Linked DNA regions of Homo sapiens: region 1 is linked to region 2. Evidence: fine-mapped expression QTL. A gene starts in region 2. The other region holds a variant in brackets. All regions are shown on one strand. Distances are between the middles of the regions. Region 1 overlaps SCIMP (SLP adaptor and CSK interacting membrane protein). Region 2 holds the start of SCIMP (SLP adaptor and CSK interacting membrane protein).

What was found.
Region 1: its variant is fine-mapped to the expression of SCIMP in whole blood (TOPMed, PIP above 0.99).

Annotation. Positions count from the first base shown.
Region 1 is chr17:5,198,446-5,214,684 of GRCh38, reverse strand. SCIMP (SLP adaptor and CSK interacting membrane protein) reads left to right here. Exons shown (of 5, transcript NM_207103.3): 5 at 3,730-5,765. The coding sequence ends at 3,884. ZNF594-DT (ZNF594 divergent transcript) reads right to left here. Exons shown (of 6, transcript NR_152840.1): 2 at 4,790-4,935; 3 at 476-635. Among named protein-coding and RNA genes, the nearest start is that of ZNF594-DT, 15 kb to the right of the region's middle. RefSeq lists a silencer at 6,077-6,256. The variant A/T (reference allele first, on the strand shown) is at 7,167.
Region 2 is chr17:5,226,488-5,242,726 of GRCh38, reverse strand. It overlaps SCIMP (SLP adaptor and CSK interacting membrane protein), which reads left to right and starts at 7,867. Exons shown (of 5, transcript NM_207103.3): 1 at 7,867-7,992. The coding sequence starts at 7,972. ZNF594-DT (ZNF594 divergent transcript) reads right to left here. Exons shown (of 6, transcript NR_152840.1): 6 at 6,724-7,613. RefSeq lists enhancers at 717-946, 5,181-5,480, 7,426-7,625.

The DNA of each region.
Region 1 (16,239 bases), 28 kb after region 2:
GTATTTTTAGTAGAGAAGGAGTTTCACCGCGTTAGCCAGGATGGTCTCGATCTCCTGACCTCGTGATCCACCGGCCTCGGCCTCCCAAAGTGCTGGGATTATAAGCGTGAGCCACTTTTTTTTGTTTTTGAGATGGAGTCTCGCTCTGTCCCCCAGGCTGGAGTGCAGTGGCGCGATCTCCACTCACTGCAAGCTCCGCCTCCCAGGTTCACACCATTCTCCCACCTCAGCCTCCTGAGTAGCTGGGACTACAGGTGCCCACCACCACGCCTGGCTAATTTTTTGTATTTTTAGTAGAGACGGGGTTTCACCATGTTAGCCAGGATGGTCTAAATTTCCTGACCTCATGATCTGTCCACCTCGGCCTCCCGAAGTGCTGGGATTACAGGTGTGAGACACCACGCCCGTCCCCTATGAAGGTGTCTTAGATAGCTCAGGCTGCTGTAACAAAAATACCATAGACTGGGGTGCTTACACAACAGAAATTTGTTTTCTCGTTGTTCTGAAGCTGGAAGCCCGAGATGAGGGTGTTGGCCGATTTCTGTGAGGTTTCTGGTGAGGGTTCTCCTCCTGGCTTGCAGACAGCTGCCTTCTTGCTATGTCCCCACAAATGGCCTTTCCTTGGTGCATTCAAGCTGGGGAAGAGCATCAGGGAGTCAGATTTCTGGTGTTTCTTCTTACAAGGACACTGATCCTGTTGGATCAAGGCCTCATCCCTATGGCCACATATAGCCTCACTGGGGGTTAAGGCTTGAACACCTGAATTTTGGGGGGACACAAACATTCAGTCTGTAACACTAGGATTTATAGATGCAGCATCCTGATTATTTTATTTTTGAGGCAGAGTCTTGGTTTCTCACCCAGGCTGGAGTGCAGTGGCATGATTTCAGCTCACTGCAATCTCCACTTCCTAGGTCCAAGCTATTTTCCTGCCTCAGCCTCCTGAGTAACTGGGATTATAGGCGTGCACCACCACACTCAGCTAATTTTTTGTATGTTTAGTAGAGACGGGGTTTCACCATATTGACCAGGCTCGTCTTGAACTCCTGACCTCAAGTGATCCACCCGCCTCGACCTCCCAAGGTGCTGGGATTACAGGCATGAGCCACCACACACAGCCAGCATCCTGTTTAAAAGAGATAGCCAGAGGCCAGGCACAGTGGCATATGCTTGTAATACCAACACTTTGGAAGGCCAGGGCGGGCTGATGACTTGAGCTCAGGAGTCTGAGAACAGCCTGGGCAACATGGCAAAATCCTATCTTTACAAAAATTAGCCAGCGTGATGGTGCACACTTATAGTCCCAGCTACTTGGAAGGCTGAGGTGGGGGGATCGCTTGAGCCTGGGAGGTCTGCAGTGAGCCACGATAGCATCACTGCACCTGGACGACAGAGTGAGACCCTGTCTCAAAAAAAAAAAAAAAAGGGATGGAAAAGCAAAAAGGGGGCAGCATAAGTACCGACGCACCCAATAGCCTGATATAAGGGTGTAAATTCATGTTCAAATCCCAGCTTGGAACATAAACAGAAAGAAACATGGGGTGTCACTAGGCCTTTCACTTCCTATCAGAAAAACTCTGCCTGGTTCCTTTGACTGGAATGTTCTTCCTTAAGCTCTTTGCCTCGCTGGATTTTCCTCATCCTTCAGATGTCAGCTCAGAAGTTACCACCTCAAAGAGGCCCTCTCTGTCCACTCAACCTAAAGTAGTTCTGCTAATTTCCTTTATGAAACTGACAGTTATCCAAAATTGTGTTATTTACTTATTGTTCATTTATGTATTATTGATCTCCTCCACTGGAGTATAAACTTCAGGAACACAGGAACCTTTTTTGTCCACCACTATTAATATTTATCCACTACCTAGAACAGGGCGTGAGGCTCAGTCGATACTTAAGAAAAATATTTTGATTGGATAGATAAATAATATTAGCTAACATTTATTGAGCATGCGCTGTGTTTCAGGTCCCACACTAAGCACTTTACAGGTATTAGCTCATTCACTCCTCACAACTCTACAAGCCAGGTACATTTTTTTGTTTGTTTGTTTTTTGAGATGGAGTCTCGGTCTGTCGCCCAGGCTGGAGTGCAGTGGCGCAATCTCGGCTCACTGCAAGCTCCACCTCCCGAGTTCATGCCATTGTCCTGCCTCAGCCTCCTGGGTAGCTGGGACTACAGGTGCCTGCCACCATGCCTGGCTAATTTTTTGTATTTTTAGTAGAGATGGGGTTTCACCATGTTAGCAAGGATGATCTCGATCTCCTGACCTCGTGATCCACCCACCTCAGCCTCCCAAAGTGCTGGGATTACAGGCGTGAGCCACCGCGCCCGGCCCAAGCCAGGTACATTTTTATTCCTCTGTGACAGATGAGGATGCTCAGGCACAGATAAGTGACTTACCTATAGTCACACAGCTAATGACTGCTGGAACGTGAACATGAACTCTGGTCTGTCAAACTGCAGAGTTCTGCAAATAGTGGCATTTCAGGTTTTCTTAGGAAAAGATGAGATTGTGGGAGAGGCAGTTCCAATCCCCATCAAAGATGGAGCTGAGCTGTTTCATCATCCTTCTATTACTTATGGACCTGTTCTTTTTGTTTGTTTTTTGTTTCTTTTTCTTTCTTTCTTTCTTTTTTTTTGAGACAGAGTCTCGCTCTGTTGCCCAGGCTAGAGTGCAATGGTGCAATCTTGGCTCACTGCAACCTCTGCCACCTGGGTTCAAGCAATTCTCCTGTCTCAACCTCCCGAGTTGCTGGGATTATAGGCACCCGCCATCACGCCCAGCTAATTTTTGTATTTTTGTAGAGACAGAGTTTCATCAGGCTGGTCTCGAACTCCCGACCTCAGGTGATCTGCCCACTTCAGCCTCCCAAAGTGCTGGGATTACAGGCATAAGCCACCGCGCCCCAGCCTCCTATGAACCTGTTCTGTACTAATTCCACCTTTTGAAAACAACGCCATCCCCTTTCTTCTTAGAGAGATTTGTACATAAGCAATTACAGAGAGTCCTGGAAAACAGTGTAAGTCACTGGAAGGGATGTGCCAAAAAGGAAATATGATTTGTTTCACTTCCTTGTAAAAATTAGGATCTGTAACACAACAGCACTCATATGACTACTGGGCTCTGGTCTGTTTCTTTTCATCCATTCTTTTTTTTTTTTTGGAGACAGGGTCTTACCATGTTGTCCAGGCTGAAGTGCAGTGGCGTGATCATGGCTCGTTGTAGCCTTAACCTCCTGGGCTCAGGAAATCCTCTTGCCTCAGCCTCCCAATTAGCTGGGACTATAGGCATGCACCACCACATCCGGCTAATTTTTAAATTTTTCTGTAGGGACGAGGGTCTCCCTGTGTTGCCCAAGCTGGTCTGGAACTCCTGGGCTCAAGTGATCCTCCCACCTGGGCCTCCCAGAGTACTGGGACTACAGGTGTGAGCTTCTGCACCTGACCTGGTCTGTTTCTTTTCTAAGCTTTTGCTTCATGGTTTCCATGCAGTGCAGGCTTAGGCAGAAAGATACGGGAGTCAAGATGTCTGACTAATATTTTCCAGTTACTCACTTGGGTGATCCTGAGGCTCTGTCAGGTCTGTGTCTAAATTTCCTCTGTAAAATGGGGATCTGGCCCACTAGAAGTGGGAAGATCACTGAAACGTGAAAATCACGCTGAGCCACTGCCTTCAAAAATATAAAAACACATGACAGCTTTGCATCTAAGGAGCTTTTTGTGTATTCTAGCCCCACAGGAAGCCCCAAGTCAGCCGCCCGCTACATACTCACTGGTAAATAAAGTTAAAAATAAGAAGACTGTTTCCATCCCAAGCTACATTGAGCCTGAAGATGACTATGACGATGTTGAAATCCCTGCAAATACTGAAAAAGCATCATTTTGAAACAGCCATTTCTTCTTTTTGGCAAAACTGAAGAGGGTTCACACAACTTATTTTAAAACAATCAAGAATGGTTGAACTTCAGTAGGTCTCTGGGCCCTGAAAGCCAGTGGTGATTTTATGAAGCTCTATAAGATAAAGCACTTCCCAAACCTTAGATGAAGACACCCCTGCGATCGGATGACTGCAGCCAGAGGAGACACATGGGTGCTCGGCTCTGAGGACTTAGAGGGGTCAGCCTTGTGCTGTTGAGGAAACTTTCCATGGGAAGGACCACGGGGCTCCATGGCTCCCACCTGTGGGAAACTACTCATTTCTTGGCATTCTTTCCCCCTTCATTCCCTTTGGTTTGCATGGTTCTGAGTGATATTAAATCTCAGCATTTGGTTGTGCAGACCCTCCCAGGCTCCCATCCCCAGCAAGGCCCTCACCAAGCATGCTGGTCTTTACCCTCTCACCCCACCCACCTCCTGCACTGTGAGGCTGTGGGTGAGTTACAGCTGAGTGCTCTCGTGCCCAGGTTCCCACACCACATCTCGCGAGTTTGCAAGGGCAGGGAGTACCTTTTGTTCTCGTGAACCCTCCCCACCTAGACACCCTGCAAACCCCAGTGCCTTTATATGATGTAGGCCAAATTGACCATAGAGATTTGAGTTTTCACCTAGGTTTTCTCCCCGTGCTTGCAAGTTGTACTGTAACAATGGACAAAGGACAAAAGTTACCTTCTGATTTACACCTAGAAGCATCATTTTGCAATAGGTGTGTTGGGGGTGCTACAGGAAAAATACATTTCCCCCAGGACAAATCATGGGGAACAGGAAAGAAAAGGGGCATGTAACAATGGCATATACAAGATGAGAGTTCAGGGGGCTTAATATCCCCTGTCCATCATTTTCATCAGTACTTACTCGAGTTCTAGGAAAACAGCCTCAAGCCCCTTCCTTCCAGATCACTGTCCCTGGGCATCTGGGAGGAGGCAGAAGGTCCACTGTGATGTGCTGCAGCCAATGAGATGGGCCAGGGACATGGGCAGATGTCTTGTTAAACAAGTGTCCTAATGGGGTCAACAAGGCCCGAGTCAGCTTTATAGGCTCTTAGACCTCATCAATTCCTTCTAGCTGATCGCCAGAGCCCTAGGACTTGACTCATTCTAACTATACTCACAAGATGCTGGTTTCTAAGTGACCTCTGGGAAATCTGGCAAATGAACAGCCTTGCAGAGAGAGCACTGTGAACCTGGAAAGGCCTGAGAGTGACTCAGATTTCCCTCAAGAGATGGGAAAATGTGTTCCTCCCATTTTCAAGCTTTCTCCCTCAATCAACGCTGGAGCACTGGGGACCTGGGCTTCCTCCCTGGTTCTCTCTTTCCAGACTCTATGAAGGCTTCCACCTTGCTATTAATACCTCCTTGGGAGGCCAAGGTGGGCGGATCACCTGAGGTCGGGAGTTCGAGACCAGCCTGACCAACATGGAGAAACCCCATTTCTACTAAAAATACAAAATTAGTCAGGCATGGTCGCGCATGCCTGTAATCCCAGCTACTTGGGAGGCTGAGGCAGAAGAATCGCTTGAAACTGGGAGGCGGAGGTTGCGGTGAGCCGAGAACATGCCATTGCACTCCAGCCTGGACAACAAGAGTGAAACTCCATCTAAAAATAAATAAATAAATAAATAAATAAACCCTCCTTATGTTAGGCCAGTAGTTATCTAACTATGGCCTTATGGGACTCTGGTATCCCACCAGCCAAAGAGAGGACTCTTCCCAAATTATAGAACAAAAATAAGCCAAAGGATTGGAGTGTTTCAAACACATGCTTTCGTCTTATAAATGTTCTGTAAACCCTCCATGACTATGACAAAAGTTAAAAACAAATGCCAGACAAATGTTGATTCTTCCTTGGTTTCTGGGACGCCACCCTCTCCTGGTTCTCCTCCTGTCTCCGTCTCATTTTGGGGCCACCCACTCTTTCTGAAGCATCTCTTCAATGCTGGTCTTCCTCAGGTTCTGTCCCTGTGTCTCTGCCCATCTGCCTCCAACACTCACGAGTGATCTCACCAATGTCCATGAGCTCAGTGGGCCCCTCCTTTTTTTTTTTTTTGAGACTGAGTCTCATTCTGTCACTCACGCTGGAGTGTAGTGGCACAATCTCAGCTCACTGCAACCTCCCCCTCCCAAGTTCAAGCGATTCTCCTGCCTCAGCCTCCTGAGTAGCTGGGATTACAGGTGTGTGCCAACACGCCTGCACCCGGCTAATTTTCTGTTTGTTTTTAGTAGAGACGGGGTTTCACCATGCTGGCCAGGCTGGTCTTGAACTCCTGACCTCAAGTGATCCGCTTGCCTCAGCCTCCCAAAGTGCTGGGATTACAAGTGTGAGCCACCACGCCCAGCTGCCCCCTCTATTCTGACTTCAGCTGAGCTCTTTCTCCCCAGCTGGGTTGCCTCTAAGACATCTCGTTGTGACTGCCCCACACACCCCCTCAAGTTCAGCAAACACCAAAAGGAACTGATGACCTACCTCCAGTCCCAAATGTCTTGTGCTCTACTATCTTCTTAGTTGCTGAAGTCAGAAACTAGTATCCTTCTCCCCACACTGCTTTGTTTCCAGAGCTCCCCATGTTACTTGTGCCTCCCACGTGGTTCTCCAATGAGTCCACGTCTCTCCGTCACTGTTCTGAGGTCAGACAATTGCCAGCGCTTGCCAGGAGAATATCAACAGCCCCCTGACTGCTCCCCTGCCTCTGGCACCTCACCTGCCGTCCACTTTCTACATGGCACCCAGTGACTTCCTAAAGTGAACATCTGACCACTTCATTCCTTTGCTTAAATCTTCTCTTTGCCCGTTAACCCCAGAAAAAGACCAAACTCTTTAACATGGCTTACAAGATTTGTCAGGATCTGGTCACTGATTATCTTTTGCCAAACTCTTCTCCCCCAACCCCCTTGCAACCTCCACTCTGCCCAAGTTTTTTGCTCCAGCCACTTAAAATGACCTTCACAGGCCGGGCGCAGTGGCTCACACCTGTAATCCCAGCACTTTGGGAGGCCGAGGTGGGTGAATCATGAGGTCAGGAGTTTGAGACCAGCCTAGCCAAGATGGTGAAACCCCGTCTCTACTAAAAATACAAAACGCAGCCGGGTGTGGTGGCACATGCCTGTAATCCCAGCTACTCGGGAGGCTGAGGCAGGAGAATCACCTGAACCTGGGAGGCAGAGGTTGCAGTGAGCCTAGGTTGCACCACTGCACTCTAGCCTGGGTGACAGAGCAAGACTCCATCTCAAAAAAA[A/T]AATAATAATAATAAAATAAAATGACCTTCACTATGGTCCCTCTTGCCCTGTGCACAGCGCTATTCCTCTGTATGAAACATTCTTCCCCACCTTTGGATCCTTCCCATTTCATCTTGGCTACCCTTTCCTCATGACCCAACTTGGGTTGGTGCCTCCTGGATGCTCTCCTTTCATAGCATTAGCATGTTATAATTATTGCTTATCTGTCTCTCTCCTCCACTAGACCCAAAGCAACATGAGGGCAGGGAATGTGTCCTTCTTTCCTCTACTGTTTTCCCTGTTCCTAGCACAGTGCCCAGGTACATTGTAGATGCTCAATAAATATGTTGAATAATCAACTGGGTTGAATGAATGAATCAATGAACTCTGAGCTCTCACAGCTCCCATACTTGGCCCTATGGAAATACTTCTCCCTTTGTATTATAATTATTATATATTATAATTATAATTACCTGGTTACTTTCCATCCTCCTTTCTAATCTGGGGGCTCCTTTGGGATGGAAATTGTCTCAGTGCTGTATTCCCAATGTCCAGCACAAAACCTGGCACATGGTAGGCAATATTTATTGACTGTTGAACATTCATGGAAAATCTACCAATTGGTTTGACAAAACAATTTTTTTTCCTCTGGACATGTGTAATTTGGCTGAGATTTTATACTGGGAACGTATAATAAAGCCAAGTTTTCTACTAGGGAAATTGTTACCAGTTTGGATGAGATTTAAATATATCAAGATTTAATAGGATCTTTTTGTATAGTCCAGCACCACAGGAATCCCCAAGTTACCTATTGAATACATACTCATCAATAAATAAAGTTAGAAATAAGGGCTGGGCGCAGTGACTCACGCCTGGAATCCCAGCACTTTGGGAGGCCGAGGCAGGTGGATCACCGGGGGTCAGGAGTTCGAGACCAGCCTGGCCAAGATGGTGAAACCCCGTGTCTACTAACAATACAAAAAATTAGCCGGGCATGGTGGCGGGCACCTGTAATTCCAGCTACTTGGGAAGCTGAGGCAGGAGAATTGCTTGAATCTGGGAGGCAGAGTTGCAATGAGCCAAGATCATGACATTGCACTCCAGCCTGGGCAACAGTGAGACTCTGTCTCAAAAAAAAAAAAAAAAGAAATAAGGAGATAGTTTCCATCCTGAGCTATATTGAACCTGAAGATGACTATGATGATGTTGAAATACCCACAAATACTGAAAATCATCATTTTGAAAGAACTCCTGTTCTGCCACCTTAACTGTTTTAAGAACTGATGCTTGGCCAGGTGCGGTGGCTCATGCCTGTAATCTCAGCACTTTAGGAGGCCAAGGCAGGCGGATCACTTGAGGTCAGGAGTTTGAGACTAGCCTGGCCAACATAGTGAAACCCCATCTCTACTAAAAATACTAAAATTAGCTGGGCATGGTGGCGGGCGCCTGTAATCCCAGCTACTCAGGAAGCTGAGACAGGAGAATCACTTGAAGCTGGAAGGTGGAGGTTGCAGTGAGCCGAAATCGCACCACTGTGCCCCAGCCTGGGCGATAGAGTGACTCTGTCTTGAAAAAAAAAAAAGAACTGATGCTTTACTCATACCACAAATCAGTGGATTATAGTTTTCCTTATAATAATTACTATCTGATCTTCTTTGCAATACAAACAAGATTGTTTTCAGGAAATGCACTGGTATTACCAACAACAAATTTTACAAATCATGTGTATTCGATAGGATGCTTTAGGCTGCAAAGAACAGACTATCCAACTAAAGATAACTTACACAATGAGGAGTTTATAATTTCACAAAGCAAGAAGTCTAGAGGTAAACACTCCAGAATTCAGCAGCTCCATAATTTAGGGGTGTGGACTAATTTCAAATTGCTTAGCCTTATCCTCATGGTGGCAAAATAGCTGCCACAGCTCCAAGCATCTGTACATGATAACATTCAAAGTTAGAAAGAAAATGTGCATTACTAACATGTATCTTTTTTTTTTTTTTTTTTGAGATGGAGTCTCATTCTGTCACCAGGCTGGAGTGCAGTGGTGCGACCTTGGCTCACTGCAACCTCTGCCTCCTGGGTTCAAGCGATTCTCCTGCCTAAGCCTCCTGAGTAGCTGGGACCACCACACCCAGCTAATTTTTGTATTTTTAGTAGAGACAGGGTTTCACCATGTTGGCCAGGATGATCTTGATCTCTTGACCTCATGATCCACCTGCCTCAGCCTACCAACATGCTGGGATTACAGATGTGAGCCACCGCGCCTGGCTGTATCGTTTTATTAGGGAGGTGAGCCCCCAGCAACTTTCCCTAATGTCTCATTGGCCTGGAGTGGTCCACATACCCAGGGTTTTAGTCCATTTGGTCTACTATAACAAAATTCCTTAGACTGGATAATTTGTTAAAAACAGAAATGTTGCTGAGAGTTCTGGAGGCTGGGGAGTCCAAGATCAAGGCGCCAGCAGATTTGGTGTTTGGTGAGGGCTCACTCTGTGCTTCACACCTTCTCACCGTGTCTTCACATGATAGAAGGGGAAGACAGCTTTCTGGGGCCTCTTTTATATTATTTTATTTTTTGAGACAGAGTCTTACTTTGTCACCCAGGCTGGAGTGCAGCAGCACAATCATAGCTCACTGCAGCCTCAAACTCCTGGGTTCAGGTGATCCTCTCACCTCAGCCTCCTGAGTAGCTGGAACTACAGGCACATGCCACCACACCTGGCTGTTTTTTTTTTTTTTTTTTTGAGACGGAGTCTTGCTCTGTCGCCCAGTCTGGAGTGCAGTGGCATGATCTCAGCTCACTGCAAGCTCCACCTCCTGGGTTCACACCATTCTCCTGCTTCAGCCGCCCAAGTAGCTGGGACTACAGGCACCTGCCACCACAACTGGATAATTTTTTTGCATTTTTTTAGTAGAGACAGGGTTTCACCATGTTAGCCAGGATGGTCCTGATCTCCTGACCTCATGATCCACCTGCCTCGGCCTCCCAAAATGCTGGGATTACAGGCATGAGTCACCGCGCCCGGCCTATTTTTTTTCTTTCTTTCTTCCTTTTTTTTGGTAAAGATGGAGTCTCACTATGTTGCCCAGGCTGGTCTTGAACTCCTGGACTCAAATAATCCTCTTGTCTCAGCCTCCCTAAATGCTGGGATTACAGGTATGAGCCACCGCACCCAGCCTGGGTCCTCTTTCATAAGGGCATTCATCCCATTCATGAGGGCAGGGCCCTCATGATCTAATCACCCCAAACACCCTGCTTCTTAATACCATCATCTTGGGGGTTAGATTTCAACATACGAATTCTGTGGGGACACAAACATAGACCATAGCATTCTGCCCATGACCTCACAAAATCCATGTCCTTCTCAAATGCAAAATAGATTTATTCCATCCCAATAGCCCTAAAAGTCTTAACTCATTCCAATAACAGCTTTAAAGTCTAAGTCAACATCTCAACTAAATGTTGACTCATTCCAAGTCTGGGCAAAAGTCAAGATATGATTCATCCTGAGGCAAATTGCTCTCCAATTATGAGCCTGTGAAATCAAACTACTTATACAATGTAAGTATGCTTCCAAAATACAATGGTGGGACTGACATAGGATAGAAATTTCCATTCCAAAAGGGAGAAATAGGAAAGAAGAAAGGGGTGATGGGTCCCAAGTAAGTCCGAAACTCAACATGGCAAACAACATTAAGTCTTAAGGTTTGAGAATAATGTTTGACTTGACGTCCTACCCCCCAGATATTGGGATGGGGGTTGGGCCTCCAAGACTCGGGGCGGCCCCCCCATGGCTTTGCTGGGCACAGCCCACTCTGCAGCTTTCATGAGTTGGAGTCTCGGACCTGCAGCTTTCCCAGGCTGGAGTTGCACGCTGGTGGCCCTAACATTCTGGGGTCTTGGAGGCACCCCCGTCCCCATGGCTGTGCTGGGCATTGCCCTAGTGGGGGCTCTCCGCAGTGGCCCTGCCCCTTTGGCGGTGCTCCGTCTGGGCCTCAAGATTCCCCCAGGAATCCTTTGAAATCTAGGTAGAGGTAGCAATGCCCTCACAGCCCATGCACTTTGCGCAGCTGTGGAGATAAAACTGCTTGGACACCACCATGCTTTACTGTCTATGCCTCCCAGAGGGATGGCCTGAGTCACAGCTGGGCCCACTTGAGTCACAGCTAGGGTATGCCAGGAGCCCTGCACCAGAATGCAGGGAGCAGAGCCTTGAAATCGCTTTGACTTCAAGGTCCTAGTTTTCTGGGCCTGTGATGGGCAGGGCAGCCTCTAAAGATCTTCGGAATGGTTTCAGGGTCCTTCTTCGCTGTGATGCTGAGCATCTGGCTTCCATCTCCCCACACTAACCTCCTTATCAAAAGTTTCCTTGGTCACATTCTTGGTGTTTTCTCTTCAACAAGCTTTTTCATTCTTTACAACATGGGCAGGTTGGTAAATTTCTAAATATTTAAATTCTGCTGCTTTTTAAATCATAAATAACATCTTTGGCCGGGGGCGGTGGCTCATGCCTGTCATCCCAGCATTTTGGGAGGCTGAGAAGGGCACATCGCCTGAGGTTAGAAGTTCGAGACCAGCCTGGCTAACATGGTGAAACCCCGTCTCTACTAAAAATACAGAATTAGCCAGGCGTCGTGGCACAAACCTGTAATCCCAGCTACTCAGGAGGCTGAGGCAGGAGAATCACTTGAACCCAGGAGGTGGAGGTTGCAGTGAGCCAAGATCGCGCCACTGCACTCCAGCCTGGGCAAAAAGAGCAAAACTCTGTCTCAGAAAGAAAGAGAGAGAGAGAGAGAAAGAGAGAGAGAGAGAGAAAGAGAAAGAAAGACCATCTTTAATTGGTTTCTCTCTGCTAGCATTTTACTACAGGCATTCAAGAGAAGCTTTGCCGCACTCTCAACACTTTACTCAGATATTTTTTCCACCGAATATCCTATTTCATCACTCAGAATTTCTACCTTCCATAAAACACTAGGACATACAATTCAGCCACATTCTTTGCCAGATAATCAGGATCATTTTTCTGCCAGTTTCCAATAACATGTTCTTCATTTCCATCTGAGACCTCATCAGAATGGCCTTTAACATCCATACTTCTACTAGCCTTCTGGTACAACCTCTTAGGTAATCTCTAAGAAAACTGAGGCTTTCTCTGTAGCTCTCCTCTTCTTCTGAGCCCTCACCAGAATCACCCTTCACAATCTATTTACAACAATACAGGCTTATTTTGTGTGTGAGACAGAGCCTCATTCTGTCACCCAGGCTGAGAGTGTAGTGGCTCGATCTCAGCTCACTGCAACCTCCGCCTCCCAGGTTCAAGCGATTATCTTGCCTCAGCCTCCCAAGTAGCTGGGATTACAGGTGCCCACCACCACACCTGGCTAATCGTTGTATTTTAGTAGAGATGGGGTTTCACTATGTTGGCCAGCCTGGTCTTGAGCTCCTGACCTCAAGCAATCCACCTGCCCTGGCCTCCCAAAGTGCTGAGATTACAGGCATGAGCCACCGCGCCCAGCCAATTTTGACTCTTTAAAGAGATTCAAATAATCTCTTAAGTCAGTAGTCCAAAAGGCTACGACCAACAATTTTGGTTTATCTTCCCGTTGAAAGGATCCTCCATACAGAACTCCACATCCAAACCTATTCATGCTGTATCAACAACTTTAGAACCCAGTAACTCCAGGAGTCTGGTTATTATGACAAATGAATACAGTGGACCATCTCTTCTGCCGAGGCGACAGTTCCCTCATTTAACCCCACTAATAGCTAGATAATCCCCTAAAGACAGATTTAAAAAAAAATTTCTTGCCGGGCGCCATGGCTCACGCCTGTAATCCCAGTACTTTGGGAGGCTGAGGCGGATCATAAGGTCAGGAGATCGAAACCATCCTGGCCAAGATGATGAAACCCCGTCTCTACTAAAAATACAAAAATTAGCTGGCGTGGTTGTGCGCACCTGTAGTCCCAGCTACTCGGGAGGCTGAGGCAGGAGAATCGCTTGAACCTGGGAGATGGATGTTGCAGTGAGCTGAGATTGTGCCACTGCACTCTGGCCTGGCGAAAGAGCAAGACTGTATCTCAAAAACAAACAAACACAATTTCCATTTGTTTTTGTGATGTATGTTGCATCATAGTACTATTTCTGCGTGAACATGTCTCCTGAATTGGAGTTTGCTTCTGTTTATAACCTATTCCATCTGCTTTCCCTGAGTGCACATGTGTGTGCTCTGCCATGGCTAAGCGGCAGAATGGAATCTCACTTAAATTAACAGTTGATTGCCAAACACCCTCCAGCATAAATAGGTAACCGTTGACTGTGGTCGCATTTCATTTTACTGGAGCAGAGTGTACATACAACTATGTGCCAAACTACTGTCAGAAACAGCCAATTAATATCGCTGCACCCTTCCCCTTCAACTGTAAAACTCAACCTCTCATATTGACCAACGTATTTCTTTTTTTCTAGCTGGGATTATAGGCTCCCACCACCACGTCCGGCTAATTTTTGTATTTTTAGTAGAGATCGGGTTTCGCCATATTGGTCAGGCTGGTCTCGAACTCCTGACCTCAGGTGATCCACCTGTCTCGGCCTCACAAAGTGTTAGGATTACAGGCATGAGCCACTGCGCCCAGCCTGATCAACATATTCCATTGCCAAAATTTAATGCCATTAAAGTTTTAGATCAGCTACACTTGAACAATTAAATATTCTATGAATAATTTTAAAAAGCCCTAAACTGGTAAAAATAAACTCTCATTTACAAAGTGAACTATAAACTAACAGCCTTTAAGTTGTTTTAACACTAGATCCCTCTGTATTTTTTTTTTTTTTTTTACAAATTAGGTGTTAGTGGAACATGGTTTTAACAAAAATTGCAGAAGGTAGTATTTAAGAATAACGAAATTCCCCTGATGTTAAAAAAGGTTTATTTGCATAACTTGTACACTTTTATCCCCAATGAGCCCCCAAACAAAAATAAATTTTCCGATACATGTAATGTTGATACTGTACAAAGCCATTCTCAGTGACCAAGAAAAACTTCCTCTGAGAACATTTAAGATAAATGTGACCCTGCTTTTCACAGTATTGTTTAGAAAAGAAAATGAACATTTCATACAGCAACTCACTGTTGTATTGTATCACTAGTCTACTTTATTTTTTTTTCTTTTACTAGTCTAATAATTTCACAATTCTTTACAATTTGAGATTTGGGAAAAACAACGACAAAAACATCAAGGATATGTACTTTTTTTTTTTTTTTTTTGAGACAAGGTCTTACTCTGTCACCCAGGCTGGAGTGCAGCGGCACAATCTCAGCTAACTGCAACCTCTGCCTCCCAGGCTGAAGCCATCCTCCCACCTCAGCTTCCCAAGTAACTGGGACCACAGGCATGCACCACCATGCCTGGCTAATTTTTTTTTCCCCTAAGTTAGTAAAGGCTTCTAACTAACTTTTAAAATTATTTTCTGTAGAGATGGGGTTTTGCCATGTTGCCCAGGCTGGCCTCAAATTCCTGGGCTCAAGTGATTTGTCCTCCTCAGCCAGTTTTTTTGTTTGTTTGTTTGGTTGGTTTTTTTCTTTCTTTTTTTTTTTTTGAGACAGAGTCTTGCTCTGTCGCTCAGGCTGGAGTGCAGTGGCGCGATCTTGGCTCACTGCAACCTCTGCCTCCTGGGTTCAAGTGAGTCTCCTGCCTCAGCCTCCTGAGTAGCTGGGACTACAGGCGTGCACCACCATGCCCAGCTAATTTTTGTATTTTTAGTAGAGATGGGGTTTCACCATATTGGTTAGTCTGGTCTTGAACTCCTGACCTTGTGATCCACCCACTGAGGCCTCCCAAAGTGCTGGGATTACAGGCGTGAGCCACCGTACCCGGCCTGGTATTTTTGGGGTTTTTTTTGTTTGTTTTTTGTTTTTTAAGATTAGCTTTTGACCAGTTGAGGTGGTTCACGCCTGTAATCCCAGCACTTTGAGAGGCCGGATGGCTTGAGGTCAGGAGTTTGAGACCAGCCTGGCCAACATGATGAAACCCCATCTCTACTAAATATATAAAAAAAATAGTCAGGTGTGGTGGTGCGTGCCTATAATCCCAGCTACTCAGGAGGCTGAGACAGGAGAATTGCTTGAACCTGGCAGGTGGAAGGTGCAGTGAGCCAAGATTGCACCACTGCACTCCAGCCTGGGAGATGGACTGAGACTCCTTCTTAAGAAAAAAAAAAAAAAAAAAAAAAAAAAAAAGGCCAGGCGCAGTGGCTCACACCTATAATCCCAGCACTTTGGGAGGTTGAGGTGGGTGGATCACGAGGTCAGGAGTTTGAAACCAGCCTGGCCAACATGGTGAAACCCTGTCTCTACTAAAATACAAAAAATTAGCTGGGCGTGGGAGTGCGCGCCTATAATCCCAGCTTCTCGGGAAGCTGAGGCAGGGGAATCACTTGAATCCAGGAGGCGGAGGTTGCAGTGAGCCAAGATCGCGACACTGCACTCCAGCCTGGCAACAGAGCAAGACACCATCTCAAAATAAATTTAAAAAAAATAATAAATTAGCTTCAGCCACTTTGGAGAGCAATTTGGCAACACCTAGTAAAACTGAAATTGTGGACACTGTAAAACACAGCAACTCCACTTCGGGATAGATACCATAGAACAGCAGTCCCCAACCTTTTTGGCACTAGGGACGGGTTGGGAGGAAAGGGGGGAATGGTTTTGGTATGAAACTGCTCCACTTCAGATCATCAGCCATTACATTCTCGTAAAAGGCGTGCAACCCAGAGTCCTCATGTGTGCAGTTCACAATAAGGTTCGTGCTCCTATGAGAATGTAATACCGCCCCTGATCTAACAGGAGGCAGAGCTCAGGAAGTAATGCTCGCTTGCCCTCCACTTACTTCCTGCTGTGCAGCCTGGTTCCTAACAGGCCACAGACTGTACTGGTCCAGGCCCGGGCAATGGGGACCCTTGCCCTAGAACAGTGAGTCTCAAACCACTTGGTACCAGGTCTCCATTGCACTTAAAAATGATGGAGGGAGCCAGGCTCAGTGGTGAGAGCTTGTAGATCCACCTACTTAGGAGGTTGAGGTGGGTGGACTGC
Region 2 (16,239 bases):
GGGGAGGTTGCAGTGAGCCAAGATTGCACCACTGCACTCCAGCCTGGGCAACAGAGTGAGCCTCTGTCTCAAAAAAAAAAAAAAAAAAAAAAAAGTACTGGGAGGATCCTGCAGGTGTTGAAGGGTGTATTCACTTCCTGTTTCTGCTGTAGCAAAATATCACACGTTTGATATTCTCTTACAGATCTGGAGGTGCTAAAGTTCAGCAGTCTGAAATGTATTGGCAGGCAGGTTCTTTCTGCAGGCTCTGGGGAAGAACCTATTTCCCTGCCTTCTTCACCTCCTAGAGGCCACCTGCATTCCCATGTGGCAGTGGGGAATGAAAACAGGAAAGTGGCAGCTCTGACCGAAAGCAATGTGATTGATAAAGAGGGTGGGCAGTGGGGGGACATTTCCTCAAAAGAAAGGATTGCTATTCACCGAAGAGGGAGTGAAGTCCTGGGAAGGCAAGATAACAGGTGTGCACTCAGCTGTGATAGAGAGGCCGACCAGGCACGCTGTTTGCAGCAAAATGGGCGTTATGCTTTGCCCCTGGAGGCGTGGAAGTGGGGCAAGAGGGTAGAGAAAAAGTTGTTCCAGCCACTACGGATGTGTAACAAGTTACTGCAAATCTTGTTGACTTAAAATAGCCACTTGGTTTGCTCATGATTTTGTGGGCCAGGAATTTAGACAGGACTGAGCCTGGCAGGTCTCACTCAGTGTTTCCCTAGCAGCTGCTCAGATGTCATCTGAAGGCCCCACAGGGCTGGACGTCCAAGATGGCTCACTCACATGGCTGGCATGGGTTGTGTCCAGGTAGCTCAGCTGGGGCTGCCAACCCAGGGCTCTGCATGGCTTCTCCAGCATGGCGGGGTCTCAGAGTAGCTGGACTTCTTATGTGGTAGCTGGCTTCCCCCTCCCACTGAGTGGGAATCTTAAGAGGACGAACTGGAAACTTCATAATTTTTTTTTTCTTTGAGATGGAGTCTCACTCTGTTGCCCAGGCTGGAGTGCAGTGGCCTGATCTCGGCTCACTGAAACCTCCACCCCTGGGTTCAAGCGATTCCCCTGCCTCAGCCTCCCGAGTAGCTGGGATTACAGGTGCCCGCCACAGCGCCCGGCTAATTTTTGTATTTTTAGTAGAGACAGTGTTTCACCATCTTGGCTGTTACACGCCTCCGTATAAGAGACCACCTGAGCAGGCTTAGTGGAGCAACAAGGCTGTTTATTCACTTGGGTGCAAGTGGGCTGAGTCAGAGAAAGGAGTCAGCGAAGGGTGGTGGGAGTGGAACTGGTTCTATAGGTTTGGGGTAGGTAGTGGAAAGTTACAGTTAGGGGCAGTTTTTTTGGGCAGGGGAAGAATGTTACAAGGTGCATAGTCACAAGGTGGGGGAAGTCATAAGGCACGATATCACAAGGTGGATGGATTAGTTGGGGAAGGGCAGGAACATATCACAAGGTGGATGGATTAATTAGGGTAGGGAAGGAACATATCACAAGGTGGATGGATTAGTTAGGGTAGGGCAGGAACATGTCACAGTGGTGGATGGATTAGTTGGGGAAGGGCAGGAACATATCACAAGGTGGATGGATTAGTTAGGGTAGGGAAGGAACATATCACAAGGTGGATGGATTAGTTAGGGTAGGGCAGGAACATGTCACAGTGGTGGATGGATTAGTTAGGGTAGGGCAGGAACATGTCACAAGGTGGATGGATTAGTTAGGGTAGGGCAGGAACATGTCACAAGGTGGATGGATTAGTTGGGGAAGGGCAGGAACAATCACAAGGTGGATGGATTAGTTGGGGAAGGGCAGGAACATATCACAAGGTGGATGGATTAGTTGGGGAAGGGCAGGAACATGTCACAATGGTGGATGGATTAGTTGGGGAAGGGCAGGAACATGTCACAATGGTGGATGGATTAGTTGGGGAAGGGCAGGAACATATCACAAGGTGGATGGATTAGTTAGGGTAGGGCAGGAACATGTCACAGTGGTGGATGGATTAGTTGAGGAAGGGCAGGAACATGCCACAAGGTGGATGGATTAGTTGGGGAAGGGCAGGAACATATCACAAGGTGGATGGATTAGTTAGGGTAGGGCAGGAACATGTCACAGTGGTGGATGGATTAGTTGAGGAAGGGCAGGAACATGCCACAAGGTGGATGGATTAGTTGGGGAAGGGCAGGAACATATCACAAGGTGGATGGATTAGTTAGGGTAGGGAAGGAACATATCACAAGGTGGATGGATTAGTTGGGGAAGGGCAGGAACATATCACAGTGGTGGATGGATTAGTTGGGGAAGGGCAGGAACATATCACAAGGTGGATGGATTAGTTGGGGAAGGGCAGGAACATATCACAGTGGTGGATGGATTAGTTGGGGGAAGGGCAGGAACATATCACAAGGTGGATGGATTAGTTAGGGTAGGGCAGGAACATATCACAGTGGTGGATGGATTAGTTGGGGAAGGGCAGGAACAATCACAAGGTGGATGGATTAGTTGGGGAAGGGCAGGAACATATCACAAGGTGGATGGATTAGTTGGGGAAGGGCAGGAACATGTCACAATGGTGGATGGATTAGTTGGGGAAGGGCAGGAACATGTCACAATGGTGGATGGATTAGTTGGGGAAGGGCAGGAACATATCACAAGGTGGATGGATTAGTTGGGGAAGGGCAGGAACATATCACAAGGTGGATGGATTAGTTGGGGAAGGGCAGGAACATATCACAAGGTGGACTGTTGCAAGGTCGGTTAATCATTAAGGCAGGAACTAGCTGTTCCGTCTTCTTTAGTGGTTCTCCTGTTGCTCCAGGCTTTGTGACTCCAGGAGGCCTGTAACGTGTGGGTCACAGGGGTCACAATGGCTCGACCATGGGGTAGCCCATTCAGGGGACCTTCCACTGGCCAGGTTGGTCTTGAACTCGTGACCTCATGATCCACCCGCCTCGGCCTCCCAAAGTGCTGGAATTACAGGCGTGAGCCACCGCGTCCCGCCCAAAGCTGCATAATTTTTTATCCTCAAAAGTTAAGCAGCTTTCCTTCCCCTACAGTCAGTGTTATAAGTGAGTCACTAACGTCAGCCCACTTTTGAGTAGAGGGGACATAGATTCCCACAGCTCAATGGGAGGAGTGTCAAAAAAATGTATGAGCATATTTTAAAACCATTGCAAAGTATGTCATGGGGAGAGTGTCCAGAGGAGAGATGACTGAGTTGGGTTAAATTGCCAGGCCAGGCACAGTGGCTCATGTCTGTAATCCCAGCATTTCGGGAGGCCGAGGCGGTAAAATCTCTTGAGGCCAGGAGTTTGAGACCAGCTTGGGAAACATAGCGAGACCCCCATCTCTACAAAAAATTTAAAAATTAGCCAGGTGTGGTGGTGCATGCCTATGGTCCCAGCTACTTGGGAGGCTTAGGTGAGAGGATCGCTTGAGCCCAGGAGTTCGAGGCTGCGTTGGGCCACGACTGCACCACTGCACTCCAGCCTGAGTGACAGGGTGAGACCGTCTCAAAAATAAATGAATAAATAAATAAATTGCCAGGCCACAGAAAATGCTTAAGTATTACAACTGGTAAATCATAAGAGTTATGGTTGATGTGGCTCCCAGTCAGTTGAGTGGTAATGGGGCTGGTGGACTCATGTTTGGGAACGAAGAAGAGAGAAGGTTCAAGAGTGAGAACTGAAATCACTGCTGTCTCTCCATCCCTGTCCCAGGGGAAAATCCATTGCCCAGCCATTACCAGCTCCTTGAGACTGCCTGCATTTCTTGGCTCGAGACCCCTTCTTCGGATCTCCCCAGTCTCTTGCCTCTGCCAGCACATCCCCTGCCACTGACCCTGACTCTCCTGTATCCCTCTCAGAAGGATCTTGTGATTACATGGGGTCCATGTCGATAATCCTGCATGACTTCCCCACTTCAAAATCCTTAGTCATATCTGCAAAATCCCTTTCACCATCTAAAATAACATACTCATGGGTTCTGGGGTTTAGGGGCCCAATGCTCCTAGTACCTTTCATGGGAATCTTTACCTCCAGAAATGGGGAGAAGTGGGCAGGGACTCCCTTCATACACAAGACACGGCTGCCTCCTGCCACAACCCCAAATACTTATACACTTGCCTTTTTACATCTGAGCTGGAACGACCCCACCTCAATGTCATGGGGCCAGGGTGGGAGACAGAGGAGCTACAACATCTGCTTGGCTATTGTTAGGGACAAACAAAGCAGCCACGGTTGCTTAGTGATGACTTCTGGTTCCACCTGAGTGCTTTGGCCACCCATATTGCTCTCAGAGCTCTTTAAAGATGAGTTATTGTGCCCGGAGTGGTGGCTGATGCCTGTAATCCCAGGACTTTGGGAGGCTGAAGTGGACAGATCACCTGATGTTAGGAGTTCAAGACCAGCCACCTAACCAACATGGAGAAACCCCATCTCTACTAAAAGTACGAAATTAGCAGGGCATGGTGGCGCATGCCTGTAATCCCAGCTACTCTGGAGGCTGAGGCAGGAGAATTGCTTGAACCCAGGAGGTGGAGGTTGCAGTGAGCCAAGATCGCGCCATTGCACTCCAGTCTGGGCAATAAGGGCGAAACTCTGTCTCAAAAACAAAAACAAAAACAAACAAAAACCCCCACCTTTTTAAAAACTGCAATAAAATCTATTAATGTTCTAATTATATGTTGTATCTTATGATTTCTCTTTCTTCAGTTTTTTTCTCATGATGGGGATTAATTGACACTTGTGAGTGGCACAAAGAATAACACCTCATTTTACACATGACTTAGATGACTGAGTGAGAAGAAACAAAACGGCAGAAGCTGGGTGCCACCCGGATGTTGACAAAAAGGTTGAGTCATGAGATGAAGGGTGGACTGGAATCCCTTCTGAGTGTCCTCTAGCCTGATGGTCTCTGTAGCTTTAAGAGGTGAACATCTTGTGTGTCCAGCCATCCCTACGGGGAGGTCAGAGGGACCAGAATCCTGAGGAGAAAGCACCACAGGTGACCACTAGAGGGTGCCCTTCATTCTCCTTGACACCCTCTGGTCCAGCCGCTAATCTAGGGCCCTCAGGGACCTCTTTAGTTGCCCAGACCAGCAGGTGGCATTTCAGATGTGCAGAAAGAACACAACCGCCCCAACTTCCTGCCCTCCTCTTGTGGTGGAAAGACAAATGGTGGAGTCGGGGAAGAATGTAGATAGCAAGGAAGTGGGTAGATCCAGATGCCGTGGTGTGTGTCCCTAAACTTTGCTCTCAAGCCTCTGACTGCCCAACACATTCACTCTTGATCAGCCATGCAACCATCTCTTTCTCTCCAAATACTATGGCTGCTTTGTGTCTGTCCACATTCTGTCCATTTGGTGAGCTCCTACACATCCTTCAAGGCCCAGTTCAAATGCTACCACTCAGACCCTTTCTTCTCTCCCACTTTTGTGCTTCCACAGCACTAGCATTCATCACTTTGCATAGTAATAACTTATGTGCCTTCTGTCCTGTAGAACATGTGCCATGTGCTCTACCCATGAATGACTTGCCCAGTTCTGAGTCTCTACTTGTTGAGCACAGGGTCTGGCACAAATTGAAGGTCATTGTATTTAGCCTGCATCATATTATGGCTTCAACTTCCTCCTACACTTTGCGGGACTTTCTTGAAGGCAGATGGCAAAATCCCTGGAGCACTTTCATATTTGTCAATTGAATTCTTTCATTTTACAACAAGGAAACTGAGGCTCAGAGAAGGGAAGGATTCACAAAGAAAGTTTTGTCAAACCGGGCCTGGAATTCTGATCACCTGACACCTCAGGCTTGAACTTGCTGTGCAAAAGGCATTGTTAGAAATAGTAGGGCTACAGAGTTTACTATATCACAGCTGAACTGAGGTCCTTAAAGGTTAGCAAAATAATTTATTGAGTAATTTATTGAATGAATGAATGAAACACAAACCAAGAAGTCACAGCTTTGTTAGCCTAGGATGAGCTCTATCCACAGAAGCATTTATTCACCCCTCAGAAGAGAATTTTTTTTTTTTTTTTTTTTGAGACGGAGTGTTGCTCTGTCACCCCGGCTGGAGTGCAGTGGCTCGATCTCGGCTCACTGCAACCTCCGCCTCCCAGGTTCAAGCGATTCTTCTGCCTCAGCCTCCCAAGTAGCTGGGACTACAGGCACCTGCCACCATGCCTGGCTAATTTTTGTATTTTTAGTAGAGACGGGATTTCACCATGTTGGCCAGGCTGGTCTCAAACGCCTGACCTCATGATCCGCCTGCCTTGGCCTCCCAAAGTGCTGGGATTTCAGGCGTGAGCCACTGTGCCCGGCCTAGAAGAAAATTTTAAATTGGCTTTTAGGAAGGTTTTTTAGCAGCTAAACTTTGGATGAGCCTAAGAAGAAAGAGTTCAGGCCTTGGCCAGGTGCAGTGGCTCAACTCTGTAATCCCAGCACTTTGGGAGGCCGAGGCAGGTGGATCACTTGAGGTCAGGAGTTCGAGACCAGCCTGGCCAACATGGTGAAACCCTGTCTCTACTAAAAATACAAAGATTAGCCGGATGCGGTGGCACACACCTGTAGTCCCAGCTACTTGGGAGGCTGAGGCAGGAGAATTGCTTGAACCTGGGAGTCGGAGGTTGCAGTGTGCTGAGATTGAGCCACTGCACTCCAGCCTGGCGACAGAGTGAGACTGCATCTCAAAAAAAAAAAAAAAAAAGAAAGAAAGAAAGAAAAAGAAAAAAGAAATTAGTAAACACTGCAAATCAGGAATCTTCTGAGCCAGATGTTTTGTTTTGTTTGTTTGAGATAGAGTCTTGCTCTGTTGCCCAGGCTGGAGCGCAATGGTGTGATCTTGGCTCACTGCAACCTCCACCTCGCGGGTCCAAGCAATTCTCCCGCCTCAGCCTCCTGAGTAGCTGGGACTACCGGTTCACACCAAAATGCCCAGCTAATTTTTGTATTTTTAGTAGAGATGGGGTTTCACCATGTTGGCCAGGCTGGTCTCGAACTACTGACTTCAGGTGATCCACCCGCCTTGGCCTCCCAAAGTGCTGGGATTACAGGTGTGAGCCACCGCACCCAGCCAGAGCCCGGTGTTTGTTAAATTTACCAGACATATATCAGACATTATCAGATATTTATCAGACATATCTGGTTATCATTATTACTGAAATGGATAACAACTCATTCGCTCTGGGCAAATACAATGCACATCCGTTTGCCTATTTTTACTAATGTGACTGCTCATTTGAGTCAGAACCAGCCAATTCAACAAAATGGCTAATTGGTTTCCCCACTCCAACCCCCATGGTCAGAGGCCGTGGGCCTCGCTGGGAGTTCTGTCTCACAGTATTGCACGAGGGGACCCAACTCAGTCAAAATGCTCCACTGGCCACATTTCTCAAGGTCGCCACTCACACGCCTTTAGAAACAGGAAGCCTGTCCCTTGCCTCCTCCAAGCAGAAGATGTCTCAGCAGTTCCAAGGTGCACAGGAGCTTTCAAGAGTCACCTTCATGGTGAGATGGTGAGTTTGTCACACATGAGCTGGTTTCTTACCTGGATCTGTCTCTGCATGGGAGCTGGCGTCCTGTCGCTCTTCTTGAGACTGAGGTTGCCACATCCAGGAATGCTCACGGCAAACTCGTCTGTGGGGACACCAAACCCACCCCCACTGCCAAGTCTCCACCCTGGCCCCTGGCCCCTGCCAGGACCCCCTACCACACCATGAGGGTCCTCTGGTAGGCCTTGCGGGAGCGACACGGGGCAGTGAGAAGATTCTGGCTTCTGGACAGCCGTGGGTCATGAGCTTCCCTGGAAAAGGGATGGTTGCCTAGAGATGACGCCAGGGTCTCTGCCCCGTGGGCTGACTAGAAAGGGGAAGTGGTCAGGATGGGGCTCACTGTCTCTAGCAGTGGGTGAAGGCCTGTGAGTGAGGAATGCCTCTCACCAGCTGTGCCTGAGCTGCAGCACTCCAGCCACTGCTGTCTCCTTAGCTGCTCACATATGGATACTTTCACAGTTCAGGTAAGCATCTCAGCTTTCCAAGGGACAGTTTCCTGCTCTCTTCACAGCAGACATCTGCCAGCGCTGGCATCAGGGCGTGTCCCTGGGAGCCACCGATCAGCACTGGGCCAGGGGATTGCAGCCTGGGGCCCTGGTACGACTGCTGTGTAGGGTTGGAGAAAAACTTGCATTGAAGGATCTGCTCTACTGGTAACTGGCTGAGTGACCTGAGGCATCACTTCACCTCTCTGGGCCTTTTCCTCATGTGTATGTCAGGGGCGATGAAGAAGTCTACCTCTTGGATTGAAATGAGATAATGACCGGGAGTGAGAGGTCTCAACTGTAACGAGTTACTCTCACTTTCTGGATGCCGATGGTGTGTTTTGGGACTTGTTATGTGAGAAGACTGTCATGGTGCTATGCTGGAGGTGGGGGTGGGAGCGAGGCACTGACTGTGTCAATTTATTTATTTTTATTTTATTTTGAGATGGAGTTTCGCTCTTGTCGCCCAGGCTGGAGTGCAGTGACGTGATCTCGGCTCACTGCAACCACCGCCTCCCGGGTTCAAGCGATTCTCCTGCCTCAGCCTCCTGAGTAGCTGGGATTACAGGCACCCGCCACCACACCTGGCTAATTTCTGTATTTTTAGTAGAGACGGAGTTTCACCATGTTGGCCAGGCTGCTCTCGAACTCCTGACCTCAGGTGATCCGCCCGCCTCGGCCTCCCAAAGTGCTGGGATTACCGTAGCATGAATTTAGGCTACGTCTTGGGGCTCTTGGATGAAAGACCTGGATCACCTCCAGTCTTGGTACCTTTGTCATTGCATCTCTGGCTTTCAGTAGTTCATTAGGCACCTTCCCTTCCAGAGGCCTCGAGATCAAAGTGTGTTGGGCTGGCGTGAGTTCTCGGTGTAGCCATCTGCTTTTGCCCTCTGGAAAATTATTTTGAGAAGAGATCTGGGTTTGGCTTTGCCATATCCACTCCCACTGCCTGGTGTGTCCACTTGTCCCTGAGGTCTTGGCCATGAAGCAATGTGGAGCACAGGCTTCACTCTGCTTCAGTGGTAAATAACTACTGAGAGGCAGGCGGGGCATGGTGGCTCACGCCTCTAATCCCAGCACTTTGGGAGGCCAAGGTGGGCAGATCACAAGGTCAAGAGATCAAGACCAGCCTGGCCAACATGGTGAAACCCTGTCTCTACTACAAATACAAAAATTAGCTGGGCATGGTGGTGGGCGCCTATAGCCCCAGCTACTCGGGAAGCTGAGGCAGGAGAATCGTTTGAGCCCGGGAGGTGGAGGTTGCAGTGAGCCAAGATTATGTCACTGCACTCCAGCCTGGTGACAGAGCAAGACTCCATCTCAAAAACAAACAAACAAACTACTGAGAGGCTTAAAGCAAGGAAGGGACAGGGTCACACTGGTATTTGGCAGCCAGTGGGGAGCCCAGTGGGGGCTAGGGGCCAGCGAAAATGCAATGGTCCAGGTACAGAGATGAGGACTTGGACTACATTTGGAGGCTGATGGGCTGAAGCGGGGTGGGGATGGGGCCATGGGAGAAAGAGGAATGAGGCAAGGTTTCCGGTCTTTTCCAGAAGTGAAAGTATAGAGAAGGGAAGAAGAGAGGCTGGACTCCTTTTAATGACCCTGCCGTGCACTTCCCCATGCACACTTGGGTTTTAAGTTGCCAGTGACTATCCACATGGCCATTTCTGGTGCTGACATCAGTGAGAAGGACAAGTGGAGCGAGGCTCAGTGGCTCACGCCTGTAATCCCAGCACTTTGGGAGGCCGAGGCAGGTGGATCACTTGAGGTCAGGAGTTTGAGACCAGCCAGGCCAACATGGCAAAACCCCATCTCTACTAAAAATACACAAAAATTAGCCGGGTATGGTGGTGCGTGTCGGTAATCCCAGCTACTCAGGAGGCTGACACAGGAGAATAGCTTGAACCAGGAAGTAGAGGTTGCAGTGAGCTGAGATTGCACCAGTGGAGTCTAGCCTGGGTGACAGAGCAAGACGCCATCTCAAAAAAAAAAAAAGAAGAAGAACGAGTGGGAACAAGGCCTCACTTAGCATGAACAGCAACAGTCGGGGAATTAGAGGTGAACTGGGGCAAGAACTGCTCATGCCAACCGGCCTAAATGTTCTCTACAGCCTCTCAGACCCTCGAGATCTAGACTGAGATTAGTTCGAACCCTCATTCCAGGCCTGCCGAAGTCCAAAGCCCTCCCCAGGACTTCTGTGGACTCCCGAGGAGCCCACCTCTTTTTCCATGGTCAGCAATGGGCCTGCAGCCTCTGTGGGTAAAACTGTTTACACTGCGCTGTTTACACTGCACTGTTTGCACTGTTTATACTGTTTATACTGCACTGTTTATACTGCACTGTTTACACTGCACTGTTTATATTCCACCCCTTTCTTAGTCCCCCACACCCCTAGAACAAATCTGCTCACAAAAGAATTGGCAGATGCAGCAGACTTTACCAAAGACTCAGCGGGGGACCACCAGAGGGGCTTGTAACGCATCAGCGCAAACAACTGCACACAGAACATAACACGGCGCTGCTCTGAAAATGTCTTTGCCAGCCCATCCCTGAGCATTTTCTATCAGCTCCTCCTCTTGATACCAAATGAGGCCCATTCTGCTCATCGCACAGTAAGCCAATCACTGAGGTGACCAGTTTTTTTTTTTTGTTTTTGAGACGGAGTCTCGCTCTGTCGCCCAGGCTGGAGTGCAGTGGCGCAATCTCGGCTCACTGCAAGCTCCGCCTCCCGGGTTCACGCCATTCTCCTGCCTCAGCCTCCCGAGTAGCTGGGACTACAGGCGCCTGCCACCATGCCTGGCTAATTTTTTGTATTTTTTAAGTAGAGACAGGGTTTCATTGTGTTAGCCAGGATGGTCTTGATCTCCTGACCTCGTGATCCGCCCGCCTCAGCCTCCCAAAGTGCTGGGATTACAGGCGTGAGCCACCGCGTCCCGCCAAGATGACCAGTTTTGCAGCACAGAATGCATTTATTCATGAGGCAGCCAAGTGAGGAGATGGGAAAACAGGTCTCAAACCCACTTCCTCGAAGATGGGGTTTAGAGACGTTTATGGGACAAAGAAGCAGGTGGCCTAAGGTGTGGGGAAGGTGATTGGAGGGAAAAGTAGGACATCGGCAATCTGTGCAAGCCTAGTCAAGCTTCATCGTTCTTCATAGGATGCAGGTTCACAAAATGGTGGCATTAGCATGATGGAAGATGGAGTTTTTGGCGCTCTGACATCAAACGTCACCTACTGGACACTCACACAGACCAAGTTGAAGGATTGATGGTCATAAGTGGCTTGAACTGGATAAGAGCTGACCCCAAGTTCCTGAAAAACAACTTTTTTTCTTTTCTTTTTTTTTTTTTGAGATGGAGTTTCACTCTCGTCACTCAGGCTGGAGTGCAATGGCGTGATCCTGGAGGCTCACTGCAACCTCTACCTCCTGGGTTCAAATGATTCTCCCTCAGCCTTCCGAGTGGCTGGGATTACAGGCGCCTGCCACCACACCAGGCTAATTTCTGTATTTTTAGTAGAGACGGGGTTTCACCATCTTGGCCAGGCTGGTCTCGAACTCCTGACTTCAGGTGATCTGCCTACCTTGGCCTCCCAAAGTGCTGGGATTACAGGCGTGAGCCACCGTGCCCAGCCCTTGAAAAACAACTTAAACAACCATTACTATGATGACCTATATGTCAGAGATGTTATCCAGCAGGAAGCTAGTGGAAGTCCAGTTAAATATTGCTTAGCTACATGACTTTTAGCTCTATAGGCTTTTTTCTTTTTTAAAGACAGGGTCTCACTCTATAACCCAGGCTAGAGTGCACTGATGGTAATCACAGCTCACTGCAGCCTCAATCTCCTAGAGTCAAGCCATCCTCCCACCTCAGCCTCCTGAGTATCTGGGACTACAGGCACATGCCGCCACATCTGGTTTTGTTTTGTTTTGTTTTGTTTTGTTTTTATTTTCAGTAGAGAGAAAGTCTCGCTGTGTTGCCTAGGCTGGTCTTGAACTCCTGGGCTCAAGTGATCCTCCAGCCTCGGCCTCCCAAAGTGCTGGGATTACAAGTGTGAGCCACTGCCCCCAGTAGCTATATAGGTTTTAAGATCAACTAGAAGCAAGTGACTAAAATCAAGTAAGGTAGGTTAAGTTCTGCAGGCCTAATCTAGCCCTCGGGTTCACTCCCACCTTTGCACCATCCTGCTGGCTTCCCTTTTCATCTTTCCATCCCTTCTTCTCATCACCTTCCCTCCCAGAACTCCAAATTCTCCCCTTCTATAACCCAGAGGAATTCAACATTCCCCAGTTCCTACCAGCAAACTTCATTCCTAACCCAGCCAGCTTTGCAGATCTGCAGATCCTCTGCAGGGAGAATAGGGGACTCTCCTGGTCGGTAGCTGCCCTTCTTAGAAGACACTTGCTATTGTAAATAGAACTTGGTTGGTTTGCCCTTAATAATGCCTCATGCTTGGTGATCTTCTGCACACAGAGCTCTTTTGCATGCAACATCTCTTGGAAGCTTTTCAGAAGCCTGCAAGGAGACGTTAAGCATCTTATTCCAAGTGCAACAGCTAAGTGGGAACAGGAAACCTATTCCCTCTGGCCAGGTGCAGTGGCTCATGCCTGTAATCCTGGTACTTTGGGAGGCTGGGGCGGAGGATCACTTGGGGCCCAGAGTTTGAAACCAGCCTAGGCAACATTTTTTGTGTGTCTACAACATTTTTTTGTCTCTACAAAAAGGAAAAGAAGGGAAAGGAGAGGAGAAAAAGGAGAGGAGAGAAGAAAGGAGAGAAGAGGAGAGGAGAAAGGAGAGAGGAGAGGACCGGAGAGGAGAGGAGTGGAGAGGAGAGGAGCAGAGAGGAGAAAGGAGAAGAGGGGAGAAAGGAGATGGGGGAAGGGGAGGGGAGGGGAACTTGTTCCCTTGATGGCCAGCCTAGGGCCCTTCAGCGCTTCATTTATGTGAATACGTGAATAACTATCACAACGTAAACCATATTTCTTACTGAAGATCTTCTTTTAAAAATGCTAAATACGCCGGACGCAGTGGCTCATGCCTGTAATCCCAGCACTTTGGGAGGCCAAGGCGGGTGGATCACCTGAAGTCAGGAGTTCAAGACCAGCCTGACCAATATGGTGTGAAACGCCATCTCTACTAAAAATATAAAAATTAGCCGGGCATGGTGGCGTGCGACTGTAGTCCCAGCTACTTGGGAGGCTAAGACAGGAGAATTGCTTGAACCGGGGAGATGGAGGTTGCAGTGAGCCAAGGTCGCGCCACTGCACTCCAGCCTGGGCAACAGAGCAAGACTCTGTCTCAAAAAAAAAAAAAAAAAAAAAAAAAAAGCTAAATAAACCCACAGTCTCAGAAATTCCTGGTGAAGGAAAATGTGATTTCTGTCCCTGACACCCTGGAAATGCCCTTTGGAGAAATGAAAGTGAAGCTGATGTGTTGACTGCCTTCAGTTGCTCTCCCACTCACACGCCCTCTTCACTGTGGAAGGTCTTGCCAAATCCTTTCCACTGAAACCACCCAGAACTGCAACAGGCTCACTCATGTTCCTTGAAAATGTCATGGACAACTAGAGGAATGGGGAGAAACAAAGGGGAAGCTGGAACTCCACCTCCCCAGCATTGGATTGCCACTGCTTCCCAGCCAGCCTCTTGGCCCCAGTAGCCAATGGCCAGCGCAGGACGGGGAGCCTGCCCAGGGTCGCGTGTCCAGATGAGGCTTTGGAATTAGACTGCACAGCACAGTAATTTCAGTTACTGGACCCAAAGTGACTTCTGCCTGCATTCTCGGGTGGGAGGTCCATCTATAGCAGGGGAAAGAGACTGGGGCATCATCCATTCTTTCGTATATTCACAGATATGTATGGTATGTCCTGCCCCAGGTGATGTTCTAGGCGCTAGAAACACAGTGGTAATTACAGGCAAAGCCTCTGCTCTTATGCTGCTTGCCCATCAGTGTGGGAGACAGACAAGGAACAAACAAATAAAAAGAACAAATACACCAAGAGACAACTGTCACTGTCACAGGCTCAGTTGGAAGAAAAATGCATTTCACTGTTTTTTCTTTTTTTTTTGAGACAGGGTCTTACTCTGTCACTCAGGCTGGAGTGCAGTGGCACATTCATGGCCCAATGTAGCCTCGAATCCCTGGGCTCAAGCAATCCTCTCACCTAAGCTTCTTGAGTAGCTGGGACTATAGGCATGCACCACCTTGCCTGGCAAATTTTTAATTTTTTTTGTAGAGACAAGGTCTTGCTGTGTTGCCCAGGCTGGTTGCTAACTCCTGGCCTTCAGTGATCCTCCTGCCTCAGCCTCCAAAACTGTTGAGATTACAGGTGTGAGCCACTGTGCTCAATGCATTTTTTTTTTTTTTGAGACAAGATTTGGCTCTGTCACCCAGGCTGCAGTGCAGTGGCGTGACTGCAGCTCACTACAGCCTCAACTTCCTGGGCTCCAACAATCCTCCCACTTCAACCTCCCATGTAGCTGGGGCCACAGGCGCGTGCCACCATGCCCAACTTATTTTTCATTTTTAAAATTTTGTTTGGAGAAGGAGTCTAGCTCTGTTGCCCAGGCTGGAGTGCAGTGGCGTGATCTCGGCTCACCACAACCTCCGCCTCCCAGTGTCAAGCAATTCTCCTGCCTCAGCCTCCCAAGTAGCTGAGATTACAGGTGCACACCACCATGCCTGGCTAATTTTTGTATTTTAGTAGAGACGGGGTTTCACCATGTTGGCCAGGCTGGTCTTGAACTCCTGACCTCATGATCTGCCTGCCTCGGCCTCCCAAAGTGCTGGGATTACAGGCATGAGCCACCGCGCCCAACATATTTCACATATACATATTGCAGGGGGTAGTGACATCCCTTCACGTAGCTGAGTTCTTCTTGGGATGCGGTAGGCAAGGAGAAAGGATGGCCTCACGAGAGAGGCTCCACCAACTAAAATTGTGAAGAAAGCGCCATGGGAATGGGGGATGGGGACTGGGCTGGAAGGTGGAGGAGTTGGTGCGTGCTATTGCACTGCTCTGCTCAAGCCGGACCCCTCCCACCTCAACCCCCACACTGTTGACTTTGCCTCCCACCTCAGAGGAAATGGAAACTTAGGTGTGAGCTCTCAACTTCCTGCCCCCAAGCCCCTTCTCTCTGGTTCTATTCAGTGTCACTCCCTTCTCTAATCCTTGTTCCCTTTTGAAAGTTCATTCTGGGTGGGCAGGGTGGCTCACGCCTGTAATCCCAGAACTTTGGGAGGCCGAGGCATGCGGATCACTTGAGATTAGGAGTTCAAGACCACCCTGGCCAACATGGTGAAACCCCCTGAGTAGCTGAGGAGGAGCTTAACCTCCTGAGTAGCTGTGACTATAGGCACATGCCGCCACACCTGGCTAAGTGTAAGAGTGTGTGTGTGTGTGTGTGTGTGTGTGTGTGTTGTGTGTGTGTGTATATAGAGACAGGGTCTTGCTATGTTGCCCAAGCTGATCATGAACTCCTGGACTCAAGTGATCCGCCTGCCTTGGCCTCCTGAAGTGCTAGGATTACAAGCATGAGCTACTGCACTCGGCCAGTGCAAACACTTCTTTGCGATCCTTCAGTAGCCCTCAGTAGTCCTGTACTCACAATCTTATCGGCCCTCTGTGGCAACAACTCCAGGTCTGCCAGCACAGGTAGGATCCAGCTTTCATACCTTCCCAGGGCCTGAACTCGGTCATGCAGCCATTGTGTACTCCCTGTTTTCTGTACTCTCTATCATCCTTCCCCAGGGCTTCCTCTCTCTGGAAGCACCTTGGCCATTAAACCAGCCTGGTGGCCTAGAGGACATCCTACTGGAACTAGGATGTGATTCTCTTAGGCCCCCTCTCTCAGCTGCCCTCTCTCAAAAAGCAAGCTCTCCTTGGTTCTATTAAAAATGTGTCGGCCGGGCGTGGTGGCTCATGCCTGTAATCCCAGCACTTTGGGAGGCTGAGGCAGGCGGATCACCTGAGGTCAGGAGTTCGAGACCAGCCTGGCCAACATGGTGAAACCCCATCTCTACTAAAAATACAAAAAAAATTAGCCGGGCATGGTGGCACACACCTGTAATCGCAGCTACTGGAGAGGCTGAGGCAGAAGAATCGCTTGAACTGGAGAGGTGGAGGGTGCAGTGAGCCGAGATCACGCCATCGCACTCCAGCCTGGGGTACAAGAGCGAGACTTCATCTCAAAAAAAAAAAAAAGAAAGAAAGAAAAAAGAAAAG